6 separate regions of the Homo sapiens genome follow, and all the other regions are linked to region 5. The links come from fine-mapping of genetic effects on gene expression. A gene starts in region 5. Each other region holds a variant in brackets. All regions are shown on one strand. Distances are between the middles of the regions. Region 1 overlaps CRBN (cereblon). Region 2 overlaps CRBN (cereblon). Region 3 holds the start of CRBN (cereblon). Region 4 overlaps CNTN4 (contactin 4). Region 5 holds the start of TRNT1 (tRNA nucleotidyl transferase 1). Region 6 overlaps TRNT1 (tRNA nucleotidyl transferase 1).

Region 1 (4,000 bases), 33 kb after region 5:
TCTAGCTATGTTAGTTTGGTGCAAAAGTAACTGCGGTTTTAACAGAAGACTAGAATCTATGAGACAATGTTATTCTATTCCATGCTGTTCAAATATGGGAACTTTTATTATCAAAGGGAATGTCTTGTTACCAGAGATGTTCAGTTTAGAGCTGTCTCTCAAGTGGACACACTGGTTTTCAAATATTTTAGGAGTTGCAATATGGAAGAGGACAGACTTGTTCTAAAACACGACCTACAGCTCAAAACAAAGGATTCCTTAATGAGAAACATTTCTGGCTTAATATAATCCTTATATTTGAGACTATGCAAAGATCAGCCGTCCCCAACCTTTTCGACACCAGGGACCAGTCTCGTGGAAAACAGTTTTTCCAAAGATGGGGTGGAGGATGGTTTTGGAATGATTCAAGTGCATTACATTTATCATTAGATTCTCATAAGGAGCACGCAGTCTAGATCCCTCCCATGCGCAGTTCACAATAGGGTTTGCGCTCCTATAAGAATCTATGCTGCCACTGATCTGATAAGAGGTGGCGCTCAGCTTCACTTGCTCGTTCACCACTCACCACCGGCTGTGCGTCCCGGTTCCTAACAGGCCACAGACCAGTGCTGGTTCGTGGGCCAGGATTTGGGGACCCCTGCCAAAGGTGATCTGAGATGGCCTCCTACTGTGTGCTCTGGTAGTGGTTAAAGCCTGAGGAGTCAGACCATGAGACCCTTCAGGTACTCTCCAATAAGTTGTCCCTCACTTTTAAGACTAAATACCTAATGGTAAGATTATTGTCACAGTCCAGTTACAGAATTTAAGAAAATACTACCAAGAGCACATCAAGTAGCTCTGAATCTTCAGGAACAGCAATGGCAACCATTAGTATTGTGCCAAGAATTTCACATTTCTTGTAAGAATACTCTAAGGTTAGTAGTTTATTATCTCCATTCTAAAGTAAGGAAACAGAGGCACACAAGGATGGTATAACTTGCTCAAGGTCACAGAGTCAGTAAATAGGAAGGAGCTAGGATCTGTATACAGGGAGTCTGACTCTAACCATCATTCATTCAACAAATATTGTGAGTGCCTGATAGGGTTTGGCCGTGTCCCCACCCAAATCTCATCTTGAATTGTAGTTCCCATAATCCCCATGTGTCGTGGGAGGGATCTGGTGGGAGGTAACTGAATCATGGGGACAGTTACTGCCATGGTTTTCTCATGATAGTGAGTTCTCACGAGATCTGATGGTTTTATTAAGACGGTTTTGACCCTTTTGCTTGGCACTTCTTCCTGCCATCATGTGAAGAAGAACATGTTTGCTTCCCCTTCTGCCATGATGGTAAGTTTCCTAAGGCTTCCCTAGCCATGCTGAACTGTGAGTCAAATAAAACTCTTTTCTTTATAAATTACCCAGTCTTGGGTACGTCTTAGCAGCGTGAGACCAGACTAATACAGTGCCTAACATGTGTCAGGCTATTTTTATACATTTAGGCTATGCCAGTGAATGAAAGAAAAACCAACAAAATTCAATACCCTGTCGAGCTTATATTTTAGAGAGAAGAAGCTATATATTCTTAGAATTACAAAATGACAAAGACCCAACTGAAAGTTTTAGTTTCGCTGACACACTCCTCATTCAGTTATTAAAATATACTTCACATATCAGAATGGTCACTTTTGTAATACAAAAGAAATGTAAAAAAGTGTAGTACAAAAGTGTAATTTCATTTGGCACCCATGTCAAGAAAAAGAATCTGAAATAATATGTAAATTTCAAGTATAAAGAGAATAAAATGTGGCACACTAGCATATTAAGAGCAATGCACTGGATCAGGCATTCACTCTGCCACCATGCCCATGAGCAAGCTACAGTTTCAGGTAGCTTCTTTTCAGAGTCAGAAGACCTCTAAAATTCTTTATCTGGAGCATCCTGACAGATTCAAATATGCATAATACATCCTTAATATTTGTGATGTGTGTTAGTCAATTAGACACACTGAAGAGACA[T/C]ATACCAGAACAGATTAGCTAGCTAGCTTTTACAGAGCAACTGCCAAAGTTTAAGACATTTCAACATCCTCAAATTTAAGAGTCCCATTTAGCTTTCTGGCACAATAGGAAAGGCTCCTGTCTTATATCTGGGTAAAATGGATGATAAGTTCTAGCAATTTATAGGCATTCTTTAAATATATCAACACCATGATTGATGTCATAAAATGGTTATACCTCAAGAAAATTTTAATACTAGCCAAAAAGTTTAGGCACTTAAAAGTGACCAATGACGGATTCTCCAGCAGAGTAGTATTCACTCTGGGAACAGGATTTACTACTGAAAGCAGGCATAAAAGCCCTTAAAACGAATCTGTTACCTGGAGGTAATCTATCACAGTCCTCCATTCTTAAGCCTCATAACTATGGCTTCGGCTTTGCCTCCCAACAACGTAGAATGTTCAAAACATGTGAAACTCCATTTAAGTGAGTCTTTGAAGTGCAATGAAAATGGAAAGAGTAATGTGAAAAGCTAAACATAAATAGTAAATCACTACCACTGACTTCCTTTATATAGTGACTAAAAGTGGTCACTTATTGTGTTAAATCCTATTACAATCAGCAATGTAAATGACAGAAATAATTTATATAAATAATTAAAAAGTTACCAGTTTTTGTTTCCTTCTTTCATGAACCAAATTCCTACATGGTAATAAGAACTGGGATGGAATGATAAGCTCTTTCCTACTCCTGAGGCTTATACGCTAATGGCAGATACACAAGTGTACATACAAGATGTATGCCTGGGAAATGACCAGTCTTTCTGAGGAAGCACCTGACTATACATAGCCTAAGATTTCAAGACTTTTCTTCTTTATATAAAAATAGTCAATAAATGTTACTGTTCTTACGATTATTATCCTGGAACAAGGTGAAACAGATTCTCAAGTTCACAAGGAAATGTTAATCAATGGTAGTCACTGAAAAGCTTGACAAAAAAGCAGTGAGGGGCTTACCAGCCCTATTTTTATTTACACAAAGTATAAAGTGCCAACATTAACAACAATATGATGATGGCACACAAGCAGACCAAAAGAGAAGAAAAGTAAAATAAACATATGAATTTGGTCTGTGACAATGGTGGCATCTCAAATCAATGGGAGAAAATATGGACTATTCAAAAAGTGGTAGTAGGACAATAGGGAGCCATCTGGAAAAAAGTAAAGTGGAATTTATATCAGGATCAACTGCACAAGGATCAGAGCTTTCCACGGAAAAGTAATGAAACCACAGCAAGTATCCAAAGAAAACATGAGACATTCCTTTGCATGGGAACGTCATTTTTGGCTATGATTTAGAATACAGAAGCATTAAAAATTAAACTATGTAAGAACAACAACAAAAAAACAGTTCTGTTTGACACACCACACCAAAAACAAAAGACAAAAGACAAACTAGGAAAAATGTTTGGAACTCATTAATTACAGAGACTATAAAGCTTACAAGGAACTCCCAAGAAATCAACAAGCCGTAGAAAAATGGGCAAACACTTTACAGAAAGGAAACACAAACTGCTCTTACAACAAAATGCTTACCCTTGCTCTCAGAGAAATTCAAATTGAACCTTCAATGTAATATATTTCACTTATCAGATCAGCAAACATCAGGTTTGATACTACATTGCCTGTCAGGCCATGATGAAACAATAAAAATAAGTACAAACACCTTAAGTATTTTGAAAATAACTCGCCTCCCGGGTTCCAGTGATTCTCCTGCCTCAGCGTCCCAAGTAGCTGGGATTACAGGCACCCGCCACCATGCCCGGCTAATTTTTGTATATTTAGTAGAGACGGGGTTTCACCATTTTGGCCAGGCTGGTCTTGAACTCCTCACCTTGTGATCCACCCGCCTCAGCCTCCCAAAGTGCTGGGATTACAGGCGTGAGCCACTGTGCCTGGCCTCAAAATTATTTTTAAAACTGACAGAATTATAAATGCATTTACCCTGTGAGCCAATAACCTCACTC
Region 2 (4,000 bases), 47 kb after region 5:
AAACATAAATAAGTCTTGGTCATTGTTCTCAAGCAGCTTATCTATTGAGGGAGACGTACATAAAATCCTGTCAGGACAGTGCAATGTGGTAAGGCTATCAAAGTTTGCACAGTGAATGTTCTGGAAAAGTACCTGGGGAGAACTAAACACCCTAAGAGCTCTGGCAATCCCATCTCACATGCCTCTATGCTCTCTTTAGCTCCAAGGAGCTACCTGACATGTCAATATTTTCATAATTCAAAAATATATAGGAACGCCCACCATGTGAACAAAACAGACAAAACGTTCCTGCCCTCATGCTGCTCACATTGTTTTTTCAGTCTTAATCCCCCACCCCGCCCAAAAAAACCCCAAAATACTCAGAACTTGCATGTGTTCAGAAGATACCACCTGGGCAACACAGAGGTCTGATGAGATTTTCAACTGTGGGTATAAATTGGAAACCAATTCACTAGTACTTGTATTGCGTACCAGGACTGTGTATCTGTGAGACCTCACGGGTGATGCCACAGTTTAGAAGCACTCCGTTAAGAGGTAATATCCAGTGATCAAGGCAAATGCTTTGTTTCCTTTTTAAAAGAGGATAAAATAAACTGGACTTTTTTGTGTCTGTTTTAATGTGTATCCCTTGAATTTGTGCAAAACCCAGCCATGACAGCTTTGTCAAAATGAATTACTGCTGAAACAGTATACTCAGGGAATTTCTAAATGTCACAAGGCACATAGACTACAAGTATTTATTGATCATTTATTATGTAAATAGCATTTCTGGGTGATATAAAATTCACACTGGAGAGGGACACGAAATATAAATGGCTTTTATAGCTCAGCTGGAGCAGTAGGCAGATGTAACCAGTGTGGCTTTCAAACATCATAGCAATGCTACAAAAACCACAGCTGTCCTGGTGAGCACACGAACAGCTCACAAGCCTCTGGTCTCCCTATCCTCTTATGCTCCGAGAGGCCTTCAATCCTAAAGAAGCCAAATCCCAAACAACACTTCCCTTTGGATTTACATGATTGTTCTCAAACCTGGAGAGACATTAGAATCACCTGAAAATCATTTTTAAAAGATGCTGCAGCCTCATCACTCTCTGGAGATGGGAGATGAGGTTGGAACTCAAGCTTCTATAGTTTTAAAAGCTTCCCAGGTGATTCTGATGCATAGCAAGGTTGGAAACCACTGGGCTATACCTTAGAAGGGAAAGAGAACAACTAGTTAAAAGTTACAAAATATGAAGGCTCAGTAGAACAGAAAAAGTACAAGAAAACTATTTCATTAGGAAACATTCAAAGAGCATTAAGGTATATGTTATTTCTTACCCATCTGACTGTGTTCTTAGCTCAAGGACTTTGAACCTTTGTCTTCCAATTGCTTTCACTTTCACTATCTCAATTCCAAAATCCTGTTCTTCTCGATAGGCATATATCTCTGCTGTTGTTCCAAACTGTGCTTCCCTTTCCTGTACATTGCTTCCAAGAAAATTTTAAAAGGAAAGAATTTTGAACATTTGAGTTTTAAATATATGCAAAGTAGGCAAAGCAATAAATACAGGTAAACAATTTATAGAATCAACCCTTACTACAAAGCTAGGATAATTTTATTTATTTATTTATTTGTTTGAGATGGAGTCTCGCTGCGTTGCCCAGACTAGAGAGCAGTGGCATGAGCTCGGCTTGCTGCAGCCTCTGCCTCCCAGGTTCAAGTGATTCTCCTGCCCCAGCTGCCTGAGTAGCTGGGATTACAGGCACATACCACCACGCCTGGCTAATTTTTGTATTTTTAGTAGAGACGGGGTTTCACCATGTTGGTCAGGCTGGTCTCAAACTCCCGACCTCAGGTGATCCACCCGCCTCGGCCTCCCAAAGTGCTGGGAGTATAGGCGTGAGCTACCATGCCCGGCCAATTTTATTTATTTTTAAATCACATGGGGGATATACAAGAAGGACTCAGGAAGTACAATTAGAGAACTTTAGGAAAATAATAGATTTCTAGTCACTGAAAATAATTTAGAACTTACAGGGGTTTAAACTCATTTCCCAAACCAAACATTCTTTCACTCTGTCAAATGACTTATCATTTCTGCTGCTTACTGGCAGCACTGTACTGGGGTGGGAGCTTCCTGTATGTATTTCCTGCCTCTACCGCAGATTTCCTTTATTTGCCATGGGATACTTAAAATTCAGCTTCAATTTAAAGTGGTACAACCTATGAATTTTGAGAGAGAGGGAAAGAAAAGACCACTCTTTTGGAAAAGTAATCCTTTACGTTAAAATAAAAAAGCACTACTTCTCTATAATGAAGACAGTTATTGAAACTAAGATTCCAGAAATGTTTTTCATCAAATATAAATGATTAAAAATTTTTCAAATACCAGAAAGTTAAATTG[T/C]GTATGAAGGTGAAGAGCTGAGTTAGATGGTAATGAAATGAACAAAAATACTCCAACTTGCACTATCAAACTTCTACTTAACCAAATTCCTAACCTCACATTCTTACCCAACCTCTCCTGTACATGCGAAATAACAGCCTGCTTTGGCTTCAACACTGACCACTGCAATTACCCATGAGAGGGAATGTATTAAGCAAATGGACTCTAATATTTTACCTGTATGCAAGAACAGCAAAGGTTCTATCTTTCTGAATTAAATTCCGCACCATACTGACTTCTTGAGGGTGAAAAAGCTGAAGAGGTAATGTCTGTCCGGGAATCAGGATCATCATCACTTGTGGAAGAACTGGAATCACCTGACAGCTGTCGTCATCGTGCAAAGTCCTGCCATGAAATTCTTCCATATCAGCACCTAGGTACTATATAAAAACATATATAGGTATAGTGTCATGATCGATATGTAATAAAAATGTAAGCTCAACAGACTAAAGAGCAAATCACATTAAAAGAAATACAGGCCGGGCACAGTGGCTCACACCTGTAATTCCAGCACTTTGGGAGGCCGAGGTAGGCGGATCACCTGAGGTCAGGAGTTCAAGACCAACCTGGCCAACATGGTGGAACCCTGTTGCTACTAAAAATACAAAAATTAGCCAGGTGTGGTGGTGGACACCTGTAATCCCAGCTAATCGGGAGGCTGAGGCAGGGGAATCACTTGAACCTGGAAGGTGGAGGCTGCAGTGAGCTGAGATTGTGCCACTGCACTCACTCGAGCTTGGGCGACAGAGCAACACTCTGTCTCAAAAAAAAAGAAAAAAATACAAATGGGGTTACAAACACTTAATAAACGTGGTATATAAGCATCCCATGTTAAAATATAATTTTTAATCTAACTTTAACTCTTAGAAGAATTTCTAATCTTTTATGAATATATCACAAACACAGAAATTCAAGAATTTTTTTAGTACAAAGTATTATTTTTACCAAGAAATATCTCTATGCCCACATATCACAAACAGTAAGTATAAAATGTTAGTATGTTCAATAACACTCTAGTACCTAGAAGTACAGAGAAGTATTTAATAGCTCAATTACCAGAAAGAGTATAAAGAGCAACAATTCCTCAAACAATTCTACCACAACATAGTATTAAGCTTCTTAAAAATTACAGTTAAATGTTTATCTACTGGCAAATAGCCCATGTCCTCATCCACAATTTCTGATATCTAGTAATACAAATATCAGTCACTTGTTTTTATGAACTTTTATCTACATTTAAATGTATATCTATTATATTAGATCTGTCACTAAATTACATACTGTATGTGATGTCGGCAGACTGGTGTCAAAATTTATGATGTTTGGTTTTTTGGCTTCTTTACTATCCTGGTCTTCAACTTCCATTTCATCTTCTTCCTCACTCTCTGCTATAAAAGTAGAATATTGTAAGAAAAAAAAAAAGATGAATGAAAACCTTTCAAACATGTAATTCCTTCTTCAAAAGAGGGGTACTTCTAAAACCACATGCATTTGGTAAACTCTACAGCACCGTGAAGAGGGAGCCAGAGGACTGGGGTCCGTGCTGGGCTCTGTCAGTAGCTATTTTTTTT
Region 3 (4,000 bases), 53 kb after region 5:
ACCAGATGTTACCAATGACAGCAAAGAAAATTAGAAAACGCTACACAATACATATGCTATTGTACTAACTGTGAGTCTGTCCTTTTCATACAAACTATGAGTAAATTTCCTATCCTAGACCAGTGACTCTCAACCACAGGTGATTTTGCCCCTCAGGGGATATTGGTTGCAATAACTAAGGGAGTCCTACTGGCATCTAGTGGGTAGAGGCCAGGGATGCAGCTAAATATCCTACAATGCACGAGACAATCCCACCCAAAGAATTCTCCAGCCCAAAAGTCCAGTGCTGAGGTTGGGAGACCCTGGCCTAGACTAACAATAAAGAATTACTGAATCTCATTTCTCACCTCCCAGTTCATGTATTTTTAAATGCCCCAAATAAACTTCTAAATCGATAAAATGTCATTACGAAATAATCATTTGTTTTCCTTTGCATATCATTATTTAAGTCAAACCACCTCTAGCCAGGCCCCTGACAGAAAATAAAAATGATTTTCAATATGGTAACTGCCTTGGACTTTCTATTTATTATTACAACTTCCTAGATATAAAACTTTGTCAAAAACAGAATTACTTCAACTTATATGTAAATAGCCAATGGTCTAACACTTCATACAAATTTTCCTTGGAACATGTAAGTTTCACTGAGATAAAAAAAGAGCTATCTAAATGGATGACAAAAATATTCTGCATCAAATTGTTTGTATTTCCAACTCTGACAGTATGGCTATCACTTGGCATGCAGCACAACCCACTTTATTGCTCTACTACAGAAAGTTTAAAAGATAAACTATTAGCTCAAAGGCTGGAATTAATATTGTTAAAAATTTACATTTTAACTGTTCTGACTCCTAGTCTCTAAATAATTTCTTTAGTAACCTTTTTTTCATAAATATGGCTAAAAACCACTTTCCCCTACTCAGTTATGTTTATTAATGTTTCATTTGCCTAGGATAAACTCTTCACATCTCAAATATAAAGCTTTTTGTTGGAACTTAGAGGATTTACTCTTCAGAACAACTCGTACTACATGGAATTATGGAAAGCCCAGTGTTTCCCTACAAATAAAATTTACGTAATTTGGAGAGGCATTATTGCTATATCTACACCATCTCTGGGCCCTCTCCCGACGCTTTTCTGAAAAACAAAAAACAAAACAAAACAAACAAAAAAAAAACAAACAAAAAACCACGCTGACTGTTCAGAGCTATCAGTGAAGTCTGATGACTCATCTCATGCAGAGGCACGATGTGAATGTCGACAGAAGATCAGTATCCTCCCTCTTCTATTCACCATTCTCCCTGAAACACCGGATTTGGCACAGAGAGTAGGGCTAATGTCTCTGAAAAAATAGCTCAGCTTTCCATCAAAGGCTGGCACACTTACCCTTGTGTCAACTCAGCTAGAATGGCTTCGAGAACAACCAGTGACTATGGTTTATTTTTACAGAAAAGTTCTCTCCTATATGGTGGGCACGCACTCAGTCTCTTCCTCTTTTAATCCATGCTGCTACCAGTGGACAAATTAATCTTCCAAGCATAGATTTCTTTAGGCAATTACCTGAAACCTAAAACTGTTTCTTGGCAATCCACAGGAAAAACCCAAACCCACTGGCAAGAGATGCCAGTTTCCCAGCAACTTAGACCCAATATACCTCCTAGGCCTTATGTCCCACAACCATATCCTAAA[T/C]ATGTGCTTTTAGATGTCTCCTGATCTACCTGAAAGGCTTTTTCCCAAATCCTCTGACCCTTAAACAACCTCTGCCTCTGAAGAGCCACAACAGCATTCATTTATCTGGCCCTAAATCAACCGCCTCTGCAGTTGATTTACGTTTAGTTATATTCTCAGCAGCCCCGCCTAGACAGTAAACCTCAATTATCAGATTGTGTATTACCTCTCGTTTCATCTCCACAACACCTAACATACTTGTCATATAACGAAGGGACTCAAGTAATACTTTCAAGTTTGGATGATACACCTTTTGGAAAGCATCTCTTGAAAGGCATTCCATGAAAAGTTTATGCAATATTCCATGCATTTTTTTTTTTGTTCAGTATTTCAACACAAGGCCAAAGTCTAAACATTTCACACAACATACAGGAAAAAGAAAAACTAAGTATCTCTGATTAAGCATAATCGTACATGCCTGAGAAAGACCGATAGTAAGAAAAACAAAACAGAGAAGTGGTTTAGAGATATAATGACAGACACACCCGGGTTGGAATCCTGACTCTGCTGTGTGACCTTGGGCAAGTCATTGAACTAATCTGCAAATCCAATACTCGCTTATCAAATCGGAAACTGAAAACTGATGTGGGAAGGATTAAAAGGCGACATGCATGCAAAGCGTTAACTGCACGGCTCGTAACATGGTAAGTGCTTAGTACATGTTAGCTGTCACTCTTATTAAAAGGAAGGAGACCAGCAAAAGTAACCGCTGTGAATCTGACCCGGTCCTCTAGTTTCAGAGCATTTCCTAGGAGCTAAACTCAGAACACAAGGAGGATGGAGAGGATGGGTTTCCTGTTCTTAATAGCAAATGCTCCCCCCGACACCCTGGCTCACGGCTCGGGGCAACAGAGCAGCGAAGAAAGCGCCGCGACTCCATCGCTGGCCGAGGGCCGACGTGAAGCAGCTTTCCGGTGCGGCCCTGCTGGGCTGGCTCGCCAGGCTTGGCGCCCCCACGCCCGCCTCCCAGGCCCAGCTGCACCGCTAGCGGCTCCGAGCCTCGCCCCACTCCCGACTACAGGGAACTACTCCGGGCGGTTACCAGGCAGGAGCGGCAGGTGGTTGCCCATGTTGTGCGCAGCGTCCTGCTGATCTCCTTCGCCGGCCATGTCTGTTTACCCGCAAAGGAGGCTGGGACAGGGCGGTGCCGAAGACTCCGAGGGAGGGCCCGTGTCGCGCGGCTGCCGCGCACCGGGGCCACAGCGCCCCCTGGCGGCCCCAGGGGAGCAGACGGCGGCGCGTACCCAAGCCTGAAAGTGATGGCCTAGGCGGGAGGGACAATTACAGGCCTGCGCTCCGTCCCGGGGACAGAACGCCGTCCCCTGCCATCCACGGCTGAGTGCCCGGCGTACACGCTGCAGAGCCCTCACTTTGTTCCAGCCCTTAGCATGACTTATTTAATCCTGATATTTTGCATATGGAGAAACTGAGGCTGAGAGCCTTTAGTCTCCACCTTGTTTTTAAACGAAGGGGGCAGGGAGCAAATAGAAACCTGTTCATGCAGCATTAGTTTCAATTCTTAAAATAAGAAGCATATATGTGAAGGCTGGGGAAATCCATCAGTTATTCCGAGGGTGGTTGAATTATTGCTGATTTTCTTCAGTAGTTTCAATGTATGTACATACAACTTCAATAACTTCAGTAGTTTCCATATATGTACATTACATTCCAAAATTAACAAGTATTAATCAGAAACATACTTGAAATGATGATTGCACAGAATGGAAAACGCCTTATAATTGGTAAATAAAATTGTCTGAATATAAACTAGCCTACTCATTATGACTTCAGCTATGTAAAAACAAGTCACTGTGGCAAAAAAGAAAGACTATGTAAAAAATGAAGATAATTCTGTTATAATGGTGGAGTTGTGACTGGTAAGATATTTGTTTTGGAGGGAGGACAAAAGTTTTCGTAGTGTATTTCAGTATCACTTTTTCAGCGAGGAAGGAAAACTGAAAAATCCTTAAATGAAATACAACATCTAAACATGGTAGTGGTGGTGGTGGGCGGAGGCTGAGAGGAAGCAGCAGCATTGCTCAACAGAAAAGTCATGGATCTGAGATTTGAAAAAATGATTTCAGAAAATTTGCCTCCCTGATAAGTTACAAGCAGAAAACTCCCTTGTGACAGAGGCTTGTGAATCATTCCTGTGTCATTTTGCCTCCTGTCTCCGAATCAGTCTGTGGTCTTCGTCAAATCACTTATGGCTGCGGGCCTCAATTCGCCCATTTGCAAAATAAGAACGAACCAAATAGTGTCGCCTATTTGT
Region 4 (5,608 bases), 620 kb before region 5:
TTTGCCCATTTTAAACAGACACTCGCTTTTTTTTTTCTAATGTAACACTATGGTAATCTTAACAAATATAGAACATTTTAGATTTAGCTTTGTTTCTGCCGGTTTTCCTCATGTGGACGCCTTCCTTCTCATTTTGTTCCATCTGCACCGGATCTAAGGAGAGACACTTTCCCTTTAAGAAACAAAGGTTAGCTGTGACTCCTGTCATGTAAAAGCCTAAAGAAGGCTTTTCATAGTTGATGGAAGTGATGCCAAAGAATAAAATGAAAAGCCTCTGCTATCTACCTAGCGCCTACACGCCCTGGAGCCGACAAAAGAGCTCAGTACCAGAGCCGAAGAGTCCGTGGAGCACCACGTTAGTGAAAAAGCCGATTATAAATAATAATGACCTTAGTGGATGCTGAGAACTGCACTAAAGTTTTTCTGAGCCAGACAGAATGATGTAGGGGATACCATATAAATGCATAGAAGTCTATAAGGGAAGAAGATGCTGAGAGATTCAATTTCTTCCTCCAATAATTTAAATTGATGGTGAGTTAGTAGGTGCTCAATAAATATTTGTTGAATGAGTAAACAAAAGCAGTCTAACAACGGATTTCCTAATGAAAGTTCATGAATTGAAGCATGTTTGCATTGCATCCCAACTCTGTATTAAAACTGTATCTATTTCAGGAGTAAGATCAGAATCCTGATAGAGGAACATGCAAAATGTTGCCCATCTATTTAGGGACAATCATAGAGATAGAAAGAAAAAAGATATTTGGAAGTACATGGAGCTCACTTTGCCTATGAGTTGTGTGCATTTCGAGGTGGGAGACGGGAGAGGGAGTGCAAGAGAGGCTGGAATGAGATTTTTTTTTGTAGTGATACTTGGTTTTCTGAGGCATAATCTAGTGAGGAGAGAGGGCCTTGACGTTTTTATTTAGCGATCATGCCTCCAGTCATGTGTTCTGAGGCTCATGTTCGGTTTTGCATTGATAGACTTGGAATTATAGGACATTCTTGGCTTTTGAACTAGCTCATTGTGCTGAATGTGGTAATTTTTGTGAAAGCATACTGAAACGTCTAAAATAACTTCCAAGGCAAAACAGTTTAGTACAGCTACTGCAGCTATATGTAGAGCACCAACATTTATACTTAGTCGGGTTTTAATCTCAGCACTCAGTTCTTCGGTATTCCAACTATAAGAACCCCATCATGCTTCCCTTGGGCCAGGGTATCTTAAACATATTGAGGTTAACATATTGAGCCAGATAATTCGTTGCTGTGGGGGGCTGTCCTGTGCTTGGTAGGATGATAACAGCCAGTAGCACCCCTACCCCAAGTGGTAACAACCAAAAATCAGGGTTTTTTTTAAACTGTCTTTGTTGGAAGGAAAATCAGAATCTTCTGAGGAAAAGGATTTTTGTTCTCTTCTTGGATGTTAAGAAAATTGGCTTGTGTTGGCTGGGTGCGGTGGCTCATGACTGTAATCCCAGCACTCTGGTAGGCCCGATCACTCTGGGAGGTGATCTTGTGGGCAGATCACAAGATCAGGAGTTCAAGACCAACCTGGCCAACATAGTGAAACCCCGTCTCTACTAAAAATACAAAAAATTAGCCAGGCATAGTGGCAGGCGCCTGTAATCCCAGCTACTCGGGAGGCTGAGGCAGGAGAATCACTTGAACCCAGGAGGCGGAGGTTGCAGTGAGCCGAGATTGCACCACTGCACTCCAGTCTGGGCCACAGTGAGAGACTTTGTCTCAAAAAAAAAAAAAAAAGAAAGAAAGAAAAAAGAAAATTGGCTTTTTTTTTTTAGCCATTAAAATAAGGATAAGTCAGTTCTCCCCCAAAAATTAAATGAGAAGTAACACTCATAAAACAATTTGTTCTCTCTCTCTTTTCTTCTCCCTCTCCACACACACACCCCCTCAAATTTTTTGCTAATAGTGACTACAAATTTCTGAGCAGTTAGTGGTAGATGAATATCAAGGCATATTGCACCCTTTTATCTAGCTCATAGGTCAATTTGATGTCACATTGACATAATTATTTAAATGGGCTATTTTCTCCACAGACTGTTTTAATTTCATGACCCTGGTCTCTGGGTCATTGTTATTAGAATCTGATTATCTCATGGAAAATTAATATGGCCACATATTTTCTTATGTGCGTCCATACTTTTGGCTTACTTCTTGAATATTTTATTACTGGCTCCATTGCTTTTGGTTGGAAAAGAAGGTTCAATCATTGCTGCATAGATTATCATTCCAGTAGGTGCCCTGGGCAGCAATTTCTGAACCATCCCTTTTGAAATTTTGTTCCCAGCTGGAGAAATGTCACAGTTGTCTCAGCTTTTGACTCTGACTTTTAGTGAGAGATGCAAGGAATAGGAAAACACTTTCAAGAAGAAGCAATGAGCAGTTGTATGCACATCTGGTGACTTATTGCTGAAGATTCTAAAGCATTTAAAAATATTGATTAAGCCTCAAACTGTTGGGAAATTGTTCCCATAACTTTCATTCTGCCCCTAGATTTGCTGAGGTTTTGAGCTGTATTTA[G/A]CTTGGTGAATCTTGTGTAATGGCCAGAAAGAGACCTCAGGAGCCCCATCCCCCAGGTTCTTATTAGCCTTGACAAGAGTGTTGTTAAAATTGCAGACTCTTCACAGTTCCAAAGAGATGCCGTTTCTTGCTGTTTCAATACCAAGTCTAAAACAATCTCTGTATACATTTTGGCTTCTAAAATATATTCTGAGGTAAAATAGCAGGTTCTACTGTCTTTGAGAAGACCATTTCTTTTGTTTGTGGTAACTAGTCATGTTGGTCTCTTTTTTCCTTCTCTTTGTTATATTTATTTGGACTTTAATGTTGGCTATGCCCTTTAATGAAAAAAAATCAGGCATTTCCCAGATTTAGATTTTTATTATAAACACTTCATATTTTAAGTGGTATATCTCTAGGGAGAAATGTATGAAGAATTGATGGAAGTTGGAAATTTTTTAGTTAGTAATTAACACCTACCATTAAAAACAAGTGCAAATCACATGATGGCAAAGTGAATCTATTACATATCATAATCAAAGATTAATCAAAGTAATTACCAGGCAAACAGGGATTGAATAGAACTTAAAACCAATTAAACTATTTCGGCTGTACCACTGAATAAACACTTTGGTATTTTAATTTCTCCTCTCTTCATTTGCTTCAGCAATATGTTTGCTAATATGACTGAGGTGCACAATTGCTATTTAATTAACCTATTTTTGTCAGAACCTCACACGAGCTGCGTGGAGTAGATCTGCTAAAGTCTCAATAATAATGAGCCTGATAAAAAATAACCAACATGAAATTCGTGCCAGTCATTTTACAAGTTATGCCAAATGTAATAATATCTGAAGAAAAAAAGAAACTGGTTACCTTACAGAAATTGGATTGAAAGTACTTAAAAAACATGTTGAACCAACACAAAATTACTCAAAAGTTTAGTAAAATTTCAAAAATGTATAATTGCCTTGTTTCTTTGTACCCCACTTTGCATATCATTACCATTAACTATTGGTAATAAATCTATTCGAGGGCATGGATCTGTTTTGGGGATACTTGAGTTGATAATGGGCACAGAAGGGTTTGGTAGTGGACATCTTTTACCCAATCATGTATCCTTTGGGAGAGAATACTTTTCTAGCTATTGAGTAAGGCATCACGAAAGTGTTGATCCATTTTGCTTTTATTCCCTAAGACAATCAAAACGCTAACACAGTTTGGGTGGTCTTGGCCTCAATGATACACATTTTTTCACAAAAGATAACATAACTAACCATGTGAAGAAAGCCTCACCTTTCTCTACCTTTGGATAGTAGGGATGAAAGAAAGTAAGATGGAGAAATCCACATTAAATATAAAGACTCTTTCCCCACAAAATCCCAGAGCTCTTCTGATTGGCACCATGAAGACAAAACATTCTGATTGGATTTTTGGTTCTTCACCCAGGTGTTTTACTATCAGGTAGACACAGTTTGTGTACAACTAAATAAGACCATTTCCTGCCCAAGCTGTCTTTTTTCCCCACACATTTAAAATTTACTCACACTTACTGAGCATGATGTTTCAAGTTTTCTGAAACAGCTGGTTAGTAGCCAGTTGATCACTGGCCCCTAAAGGTAACAAAGACCCTCCATCCCCAAATTTTTGCCAGTCAAAAAAGCATGACTTTATTTCACTCCCGTCACCCCAGTGCTATTACGAGGTGTAAGCACCTTTCTAGTGAAGGTCTATTTTCTAGATCTTAGGACAAGAATAGAATGTCACATTGTAAGCGTTCTCAGAGGTCTGCAGCAAAGCCCTTATTGTACAGAAAAGAAAACTAAGACTCACAAAGGTGTAGATCACCTGTTTGTTTGTTTGGGGTTTTTTTTTGTTGTTTATTTGTTTGTTTTTGCAGCAAGATGAGGATTAGAACTCAGATTTCTGACTCCCTCAATGTTCTCCCTTCTTTATCATACAGGCTCCTTAACTACTGGCTGCTTTGCGTGTGGTGGACTTTAAATGATCACACGGGTGCCTTAATCACAGCCTTTTTATGAGTGACACAGGCGCTGAGTCTCCCTTTTTCTAAAATGGAATGTTTTATATCCATAACCCAGACTTGCTTAACTAAGGTCAAATTTACATAAACAAATGTCTTCCGGGGCCAGCAGGTAGCATGTCTGGGCAAAAGCGTGTGTGGCAAGGTTTTGATAAAGCGCAGAACACATGTTCTGTTTAAAAATGTTCACATTCAGATTCTCAAATCTCTCTCTTGCCAGACCAAGCATGTCCACAGGCTACTGGTTTATAACCCCTGACTGCATCACGATGCAGACAGAGTAAGGAGGAGTGTTCTTACAGTTATGCAAATGGAATCCATATCACCAGTTCCTTTTAGAATACTAGATGTCCCAAGTGTGCCATGCCAAACCCTTTTGCTTTGAATGCCCTGGACTTCTAGTATTCAATGAAGAGGCACGACTTGGGGAACATGAAACACCCCCATAAACACCAGCTTTAGTTCAGCCAGTGTCCCCAAAGACTGACTCTGAAAAGAACATACACGTGTATGTCGCATAAAATCCGTAGAAGAGATGATGCTGCTACCCACAACCTTCTTGGGAGCTGCTGAGAATCCCTAACAGACAAACCGAATCATAGGGCAAACCCACCCTATGTACCAAACAACCAGTGTAATTATATTCTGTAGTTGAGGAATTACATAAATTGCCCATTGGGAAAGAAGCCTTAATCTCCATCCCTCCCCCGAAATCTATCAACAGCTGTGTGAGCCTCTGTGTATTTTTGAAAGGTTGAACACATTTGATCGGAGAACAAACTTGATTTCCTAATCAGGTTCGATGCGAGGAGAGCCAGTTAGAGATGTGTGTGATTCTCCCAGTGTGCGTCTTTGATTCGTGTGCTAATTATGTCGATCCTTTGGGGAACACAGCCAGGAAGCTGGGTCCTCCTTGATGAATGCTGGCGGAGAGCCATGCAGCGCGCAGCGGAGAGCAGTTCAGCATCTCTAGTCCCAGCTGAGAATATGGTCCCATTATCTCCCAGCTGCCTAAGCAATCCATAAGGGCCTGTTCTGCGTGGA
Region 5 (4,694 bases):
AGATGAGGCATCCTTGCCTTCTTCCTGATATAAGGGGGAGAGTGTTCAATATATTACCACTAAGTCTGATATTGGCTATGGATTTTTCATGAATGACCTTTACTATATTGAGGAAGTCCCTTCTAATTTTTTTGGCAGTTTTTATGAGTAGGGATTGAATTTTAAGTGGTCTTTCTGCATCTATTGTGATGACAACAGTTTTTCTTTTTCAGTTAATATGGTGAATTACGTTGATTGGTTTTAGATCATTAAATACAACTTGCATTCCTTGCACTGGGGACAAACCCAAATTGATCATGATGTATTATCTTTCTATATACTGTTGGATTCAATTTCCTAACATTTTATTAAAGTTGTTTTTGTTTCTATGGTCATGTGGTATATTAAGCTGTATATTAATTTTTTTGTAGTGTTGATTTTATGTTATGCGGGTTATGCTGGCCTCAAAATGAGAGGAAAACTGTTTCCTCCTCTATTTTCTAAACAAACTTTGCACAAGACTGGAGTTCTTCCTTCCTTATGCGTTTGATAAATTTGACCACTGAAACCATCTGGGCCTGGAATTATCTTTGTGAGAAGTCTGTTGAACAACAATTCAATTTCTTTAAAAATGAAAAGCTATTCAGATTTTTAAATTCTACCCTATTTCAGTTCTGATAAATTGTCTTTTTTATAGAATTGGTGCGTTGCATCTACATTGTCAAATTAATTGGCATAAAATTGTTTATAATACCTCCTCATATATATCTACATGATCTGTAGTAATACCCCTATTTTTGTTTTATTGTCTTGGCCAGTACAGGAGGAATTCTCTTACTCTCTCTCTTTCTCCTCTCTCTCTCTCTCTCTCTCTCTCCAGTTGACCTTCCATGGCCATGGGTTCTCCATCAGTGGATTCAACCAGCCACAGGTCAAAATATTAAATAAGGCTGGGGCACCATGGCGCACGTCTGTAATCCCAGCACTTCGGGAGGCCTAGGTGGGTGGGTCACCTGAGGTCAGCAGTTCAAGACCAGCCTGGCCAACATGGTGAAACCCCGTCTCTACTAAAAATACAAAAATTAGCCGGGCGTGGAGGCGGGTGCCTGTAATCCCAGCTACTTGGGAGGATGAGGCAGGAGAATCGCTTGAACCTGGAAAGCAGAGGTTGCAGTGAGCTGAGATCGTGCCACTGCACTCCAGCCTGGGCGCCAGAGTGAAACTCCATCTCAAAAAAAAAAAAAAAAATTAAATAGCAATTAAAAAACACAAAGAAGCGATATAGCATAACAACTGTTTACACAGCATTTATATCAGGTATTATAAGTAATCTAGAAATGATTTGTACTACAGAATGTGTATAGTCTATATGTAAATATTATGCCATTTTATGTAAAGAACTTGAACACTGGCTGGGGTGATGTTCTGGAACCAATACCCCATGGATACGGAAGGACAACTGTATATACACCTGCATATATAAACTATATATTTACAAGGCCAGAAATTGTTGAGGGTGCCCAGCACAGTAACTGGCACGAAGTAAGTCATCATAATAGTTGTATTAGCGTTGCCTTCATAGGTGGTGATTTGGAGAATCTATTCTAGGTGGGTACAGCAATGGAGGCTTTGGTCCAGTTTGTCTAGGGTCATGGTGGTGAGAAATAGCAGACAAGCCTGAAAGGATGATTTGGGGCTTTCCTTGCCCCAAAGAGAGAGAGAGACAGAAAATCCTTGCACCGGATGATATCAATGCTGTGCCTCTGAATGTCCATTTGGAAAGCCAGTCCTGTGCTTCCAAAAACAGGATATTCAACACCTTGAAGAGGTGTGGTAATTGCACATCTTACTTTTTACGTTTTAGGAAGTCTACAGAGAGTGGGGCTGAAAAGTTTGGGAAGAACAGGTAGGCATGTGGGGAGGGCAAAAGAACAGAAATAACATGCACAAGCATTTTTCTAGGAAAATTTTAGGGAAAGCTAAGTGATGTAAAGTTACACTTAAAAGACTACACATTTTCGGCCGGGCGCAGTGGCCGAATCCCGGCAAAAGTAATCCCGGCACTTTTGGGGGCCGAGGCCTGGGGAACACGAGGTCAGGAGTTCGAGACCAGTTGGCCAACACGGCAAAACCCCGTCTCTACTAAAAATTAGCCGGGCGTGGTGGCAGACACCTGTAATCCCAGCTACTCGGGAGGCCGAGGCAGGAGCATCGCTTGAAACCGGAAGGCGGAGGTTGCAGCGAGCCCAGATCGCGCCACCGCACTCCAGCCTGGGCGACAAGAGCGAAACTCCGTCTCAAAAACAAAACAAAACAAAAACTACACATTTTCGCACTTTAAGGGCTCAACGGCTGTATTCCCACTCCTTTGCCACTCTCTTTGCTCTTTTCCGCTCTAGAAAGAATTAATGAACTGGATCAAATCTAAGTTCTCCACGTTACAGATGGGAAGCCTCCGGGCCAAGGAGGCCAATGGTTACACAAACCAGGTAAGAAAATAAAATATGCCCAGTAAGTTCATAGGACCGGCGGGCTTAGATTTCGAATGCGCGTGACTCTGTCAACTGTGGACTTAACCCTATGCAGAGATTAGAGGAGAGAATAGTCAAACACGGATAAGTTAACATTTACCGAACAGTCCGTCCTACCCTGGGGTAGGTTTTATTAACAGTCTCGTTTTGCAAAGGAAGACAGCTGCCAGTTGTCTCAGATCGCACGGGCATGCCGCGCAGATGGGCTTCTGAGCAGCTCAGGGCCAGCCAGAGGTCTGGCGAGAAGGGCGTAATTAAACGAACCCGCGCCGGTTTCCTCAGGGCCCCCCGGGGCTCCGCTTCGCCCCAGCGGGCCTCGGCGGGGCTGGGAAACCGGCTGAGGTTCGCCTCACGGTGGGGAGGAGCGACGGGAGGCGGAAGCCCTTCGGTCCGGGCCCCGCCCCCGCACTCGCCCTCGCCCCGCCGCGACTTCCCATTCGCCGCCAACCCATGTGCGTTGGTGACGTCACCGCGTTCACCAGCCCGGAAGTGCGCGTGGCGGCGGTGGCGGCTGCGGCAACAGCGGGGCCGGTAAGCGGGCGCGCGCCGCTCAGAGGGGCAGAGTTGGTGGCGTGAGTTGCTGCCCCTTCCTTCCTGCTGTGGGCCAGAGGCGCCACCGCGCCCGGTCCTCGAGGAAGACGGGAGCGGGACGTGGCGAGAGGCCTCCTCAGCAGTGGGCAAAATAGCCCCGACGCGGAGGTCGTGTCCCCGCCACGTTTCCGGCGACCGCAGGCGCGGATTCCTTGGCTTCCCTCAGCACTTTCCCCTCCGCGCGGACGGCCCCGAGACGCTTTTTCACTGGGCCTTGTCGCCAGCACCCGGCGTGGGGGGTGAGACGCGCCTTTTCAGGGCTGGGGTTCCCCAGAGCGTTTTCCTAAGTCGAGGCGGAGGTGCGAGGAAACTGAGTGGGTCTTTCCGCCCCACGTGGCCTGCCGGGAAGCGCGGCTCCTCCACCCGCTTCCGTGGAATGGAATGGTTTTTCTCTGCAGGTTTACACCGGGGTCACTCGAGAGCTGCTGCGGCCTCCTTATGGGCAGGACCCCCGTATGGGGAGAACGAGGATGTGATATGTAGAAGGGAAGGCCGCGGTGTGCCAGAAATCAGAGGAGATTGCAAGATGGCAGGAAAAGAATCAGGAAAATGGGGGCAGCAAAACTAAATTCATGGGAAAATACAATGTCTAGGAGCTATCCCAGGGTCGTGAATCCTCGAGTGCAGGTGGGGAAGTAGGGTGATACCCACCTGTGACCATGACAAGTTTTGGAGACCAGAAACTCGGTTAGAGTTTCTAGAACCCCGCATCCCTCTCATACTGCCTGAAGCCCTGCTCTGGGGAGAGTGTCATCACAGTACCATGTGGCATGCGAGTGTCGTGGTAATGCTCCCCGACCAAACCACCAAACCGAGGGTTGGGCTGCTTATTCTCGCTGCCCAATAATGAGATGCAGATAAACTAGGAAAGAAAGGAGTTTATTTCTGTAACCAGGTACGGGGCGAAGGCGTGGAAAATATCCCAGACCGACTCAGAATTACAGAGCTTTCCAGAGCTTATATACCTTGTAAGTTGTATGTTTATGTGTAAGTGTGCATTGATCTAAAGATACAAGTGATTAACTTCTTACCCATAAGATCTGAGTCCTGAAGACCTTCCTCTGGAGCCTGAGTAAATTTACTTAATCTAAATGGGTCCAGGTGCTGGGGTGATTACCCTTATATTCTCTCCTGCTAAATCATGGAGGTTTGGGGAGTTCCCTCAGACCCCTAATAAACTTGTTCGTGGAGGCCTGGGGAGTTTCCTCAGATCCCCAGTAAAACTTGTTTAATTCTAAACGGGTCCTGTTAAGAATTCCTTTGTGGCCGGGCTCAGTGGCTCACGCCTGTAATCCCAGCACTTTGGGAGGCTGAGGCGGGCAGATCACTTGAGGTCAGGAGTTCGAGAGCAGTCTGGCCAACGTGGTAAAACCCCGTCTCTACCCAGAAGTATAAAAAATTAGCCGGATGTGGTGGTGTGCGCCTGTAATCCCTGCTACTTGGGATGCTGAGGCAGGAGAATCTCTTGAACCCAGGAGGCAGGGGTTGCAGTGAGCTGAGATCGCGCCACTGCACTCCCGCCTGAGCGACAGAGCGAGACTCCATCTCAAAAAAAAAAAAAAAAAAAAAAAGAATTCCTTTGTTATTTTATCA
Region 6 (4,072 bases), 22 kb after region 5:
TGAGAGCAAGTTATAAAGTGTTTGAATTTTTGGCAGTGAAATATCTGGTTTCAAATTTCATAAGGAAAAAATGTTTGACTCATTTGGTTGAAGAATTCTTGGAGAAATGGAGTATTTTAAAATAAGACAAAGTTTGGGTTATGGGGTAAGTTTTGTCGTGAGTAGGGAAGAGCTCAAAGACAGCTTGTGGTGCTTGTAGAGTAGTCTCTAGTCAGACCTAGGTTTGAAGGAAGCTCAGCCCCTTATCTAGTCTTTGCAACTTGGGTTAGTTTCTAACCCAAAAAAGCGGTTTAAAAGTAATGTAGCCTCTATCTAATAGGAAAGCTAAAAGGATTCAGTGAGTTAATACATGTAAAGCTCTTTTAGAAGAGTGACTTGTACACAGAAATTGTTCAGTAAACGTTGTAATTCATTTTCACAGAGAATAGTGGGATTATATGGTTTATCACACTTCGGTAAGCTTGGGCATATTTCAAATTTCAGTAACATTACTGAATGGGGGGTGGATCTTGTATCAGTGTAAAGTCAGGAATTTGTGATTAGAAAGAGTATGCCTTGTGAGTCTGACACCACTGTCACCACTACCCCTGGAACTCTTGATGTAGCTTTAATGGAAACAAGAACATTTTAGAGGTTTTGAAGGTGACAGGGGAGAGAATAACAATATATTAGTGGTTCGCCTTTAAGTTGGAACATCAGACTGAACCTATATAATGTATCCTAGTGACAAAGCATTTCTGGATACTAAAATGGTGGCAAGGTTTAGGATATGAGTGGTTTTTTATCCCCACTAAAAACAGGTGAAAAATGCTTTTGTCCCTACAGGTTTACCTGCTAATGCAAGTTTAGAAGAATTTGACAAAGTCAGTAAAAATGTTGATGGTTTTTCACCAAAGCCAGTGACTCTTTTGGCCTCATTATTCAAAGTACAAGATGATGTCACAAAATTGGATTTGAGGTTGAAGATCGCAAAAGAGGAGAAAAACCTTGGCTTATTTATAGTTAAAAATAGGAAAGATTTAATTAAAGCAACAGATAGTTCAGACCCATTGAAACCCTATCAAGACTTCATTATAGATGTAAGTATATACTAGGCTTGGTCAGAAATATGAAGTATCGTCACGAATTTAGAATTAATTTATTAAAACTAAGATCTACAAATCTGTGAATTTTACTTATTTTAAATGAAAAAATTTATGTTGAGTATTTAAATTTTAGGATAAGATTGTAAGTGTATGTTTTCATGTGTGACGAAACTAAATGTTTGATTTTGACACGTAGTCTAGGGAACCTGATGCAACTACTCGTGTATGTGAACTACTGAAGTACCAAGGAGAGCACTGTCTCCTAAAGGAAATGCAGCAGTGGTCCATTCCTCCATTTCCTGTAAGTGGCCATGACATCAGAAAAGTGGGCATTTCTTCAGGAAAAGAAATTGGGGCTCTATTACAACAGTTGCGAGAACAGTGGAAAAAAAGTGGTTACCAAATGGAAAAAGATGAACTTCTGAGTTACATAAAGAAGACCTAAAACTGATGGCTACTAAAAAGCAGAGCATTTCTGGTAAGACTAAATTTTCTCCCCTCCCTCTTAATGAGGTTTTAGAGACTACACCAGAATAAAAGACAGTTTAGGGGACCTCTGTAGAACAACAAGGGTCTTATTTTGTGAATTATATATTTCAAGAACTAAACAGAGATCCACCTTTCTGGATCTGATTTATATCACTGAAATGTACAGTTCTTTTGGAATAGTTTCACCTGAGAAAACATAGTTGGCTATTATCTATCTTAACCTGTTCAGGCTTTTAAAAAAAACTGTTTTTGCATAGGGTAGTACTAAGATCTTAAAAAGTGGTAACTGTCTTGAAGAAAAAACGTTTATTGTTTGTTTGCAATTGAAATAACAGGGTTACCTTAACAATGACTGTC[T/C]ATGATGTGTCAGTTCTTATCTGAATTCCAAAATAAACCTGTGCTTAAAAAAGAAATAATTGACCAAGTAAGTTTGCATAAAATGTGAATACTAAATGTGTCCCCAGTTGCTGGCATTCATATGTACAGGATTTGTTCTAGCAAGCTATGCTTCAGTATGTGGTTGATATTTTTCTGTCACAATGATTTCTTTATGCATGCAGAGCCTGGGGAAGTCATGGGATTAACTTGAGGGTCACTATTGAGCCTATTAATTAATTATTGTTTTAATAAAACAAACATTGGTATTGGAAGATAAATATGTTTATGTGGTATCTGACAATGTGTATTAGGTGTCATATACAATGGTAATATGCCTGTCTTTAAAGTGTTATTTTATTAATTAAAAGGATATGGCTATTATTATATATTCTCTAAAGATTTGAGTCCTAAATGCTTTCATCAGGTAAATAAAATGTATAATACAAACTGTTTATTTCAGCTGCTATAATTTCAGCTGCTATACTGACATTTCATAATTTATTTCCTTTCTGTGTAGCCAGTCATAACATCTTTGTACTCTATGAGCAAATAGTAATTTTGGACCTTGATAAAACAATTTTGTAGAGTGTAATATTTCTAAGAGGAAATGTCACAGGGGCTATGATGCAAGAAAGCCTCAGAAATGACTGCATACAGGTCAGTAATTAGATGCATTATAAAATAATACTTTGAAATACTTACTTAAAATATTTAAGTACTGCCAAAATACAGATTTAGACCCAACGTCATATAATACATACTATTTCTGTATAGAAAGTATGCAGATTTAGCTATCAGGTCTGGTTTTGTCATGTGTAAAACCATTTTCAGTAGTAGTATAGTATATGTGTGTTTTTACAGATCAGAAAATTTTATTTGCTAGTAAACGGTATGGGACATACTGAAATTTTAACTTTTCAGAGGGACAAGGTAACTCATTGCAACTGGTTTAGAGTTCAGCCTACAGAGAGGTACTATGCTACTGACAGGAACTTCCTGGAGTAAGTAAGTTTTAGTGCAGTGTAAGAACTATAGGAACAAACCAGACCAGTGAAGTCACACAAACCCAAAATTATTAAAGTAGTAAAAGTAGACCTTAGAAAAAATAAGGCAGGGGCATATCCTGATTGGAAGTATTCTTGAATTTTCATTTACTCTATTTACATAAATATGCAGTGTGACACTCAACTGATTTCACTCCACCTTCAAGGCATGTATTTTGGCCTCATACTATTACTACATTTGAGTAAACATTTAACCTGATTAGTTTTAAAGTAGCAAAGGACTACCAATAAAACGAAAGTTATCATACAAATGTGGAAGGAAGGACCCACTAAACCCTTGAATATAAGCAAAGAGGTAGGTGGCAAAGCAGCCTTTTTAGAACTTTAAAATTATGAGTAGATATTTTACATTATTTGAACAAAGAACATGTTTAGTTTCACACTTAAGGTTTACTTACTTACAGATTTTCTTCAATTTACATTGAACAAAATAATACAGTATCAAGTTTAGTCTGGGTGAGGGGACATGTTTTGGCATCTTTTCCCTATAGTAGTAGTTTTGGTTCAAATTAATTTTTGAAAAATAGCTTTTGTATGGAACAGTATAAATGGGCTTATAGTTCAGATACTGAGCAAATACACAATACTACTTTTTACTAACAGGCACATAAAGGAAATGACAACTATTCGTGGGCTCAAAAAACTGCATATTTTAACTAATTTTCAAAATTTACAAATCAGTATCTCAGAGAAGTTAAAGAAAATGGAAAGGAACAAAGCCCTTTTAGAATAATTAATATACATTGCCTTGCTTCTTTCCAAAAGGAACATGTACTTGTCACCCTAGCTTTTGTTATTTAGAGCACTGGTACAGATACGCTGTCCCATACATCAGGATCAAATTATTAGTTTCAGTTTCACATTGTAGGAATTTAAGATTTTTTTTTTTTTTAACACAGGAAATAATCTCATCATTTCCAAAGATGTCTTCATGTCCCATCAATGACATGCTACCAGACATATCAGATTCCACAGGATAATGGCACCAAGCTACCCAAGTAGATGTTTCTGGTATTCTAGACTGCCGTTCATGCTTGTTTCCTAAAGTATACTTAA

Evidence for each region. PIP is the estimated chance that this variant, and not a neighbour inherited with it, causes the effect.
Region 1: its variant is the best candidate, but not a certain one, in a credible set for the expression of TRNT1 in testis (GTEx, PIP 0.72).
Region 2: its variant is the best candidate, but not a certain one, in a credible set for the expression of TRNT1 in activated CD8 T cells (Schmiedel 2018, PIP 0.51).
Region 3: its variant is the best candidate, but not a certain one, in a credible set for the expression of TRNT1 in whole blood (TOPMed, PIP 0.52).
Region 4: its variant is the best candidate, but not a certain one, in a credible set for the expression of TRNT1 in monocytes (TOPMed, PIP 0.71).
Region 6: its variant is the best candidate, but not a certain one, in a credible set for the expression of TRNT1 in blood mononuclear cells (TOPMed, PIP 0.71).

What each region holds. Positions count from the first base shown.
Region 1 is chr3:3,157,753-3,161,752 of GRCh38, forward strand. The region is part of intron 5 of CRBN (cereblon); the gene reads right to left. Among named protein-coding and RNA genes, the nearest start is that of CRBN, 20 kb to the right of the region's middle. The variant T/C (reference allele first, on the strand shown) is at 1,996.
Region 2 is chr3:3,171,453-3,175,452 of GRCh38, forward strand. It overlaps CRBN (cereblon), which reads right to left. Exons shown (of 11, transcript NM_016302.4): 2 at 3,711-3,817; 3 at 2,607-2,809; 4 at 1,324-1,473. Among named protein-coding and RNA genes, the nearest start is that of CRBN, 6.2 kb to the right of the region's middle. The variant T/C (reference allele first, on the strand shown) is at 2,391.
Region 3 is chr3:3,176,851-3,180,850 of GRCh38, forward strand. It overlaps CRBN (cereblon), which reads right to left and starts at 2,841. Exons shown (of 11, transcript NM_016302.4): 1 at 2,771-2,841. The coding sequence starts at 2,837. RefSeq lists a silencer at 2,905-3,074. The variant T/C (reference allele first, on the strand shown) is at 1,690.
Region 4 is chr3:2,505,990-2,511,597 of GRCh38, forward strand. The region is part of intron 3 of CNTN4 (contactin 4); the gene reads left to right. Among named protein-coding and RNA genes, the nearest start is that of CNTN4-AS2, 360 kb to the left of the region's middle. The variant G/A (reference allele first, on the strand shown) is at 2,542.
Region 5 is chr3:3,123,950-3,128,643 of GRCh38, forward strand. It overlaps TRNT1 (tRNA nucleotidyl transferase 1), which reads left to right and starts at 2,991. Exons shown (of 8, transcript NM_182916.3): 1 at 2,991-3,041. It overlaps LOC124909339 (a long non-coding RNA gene), which reads right to left and starts at 2,882. Exons shown (of 2, transcript XR_007095786.1): 1 at 2,611-2,882. RefSeq lists a silencer at 2,695-3,114 and enhancers at 3,322-4,052, 3,475-3,554.
Region 6 is chr3:3,146,625-3,150,696 of GRCh38, forward strand. TRNT1 (tRNA nucleotidyl transferase 1) reads left to right here. Exons shown (of 8, transcript NM_182916.3): 7 at 826-1,079; 8 at 1,282-2,399. The coding sequence ends at 1,530. CRBN (cereblon) reads right to left here. Exons shown (of 11, transcript NM_016302.4): 11 at 3,387-4,072. Among named protein-coding and RNA genes, the nearest start is that of TRNT1, 22 kb to the left of the region's middle. The variant T/C (reference allele first, on the strand shown) is at 1,932.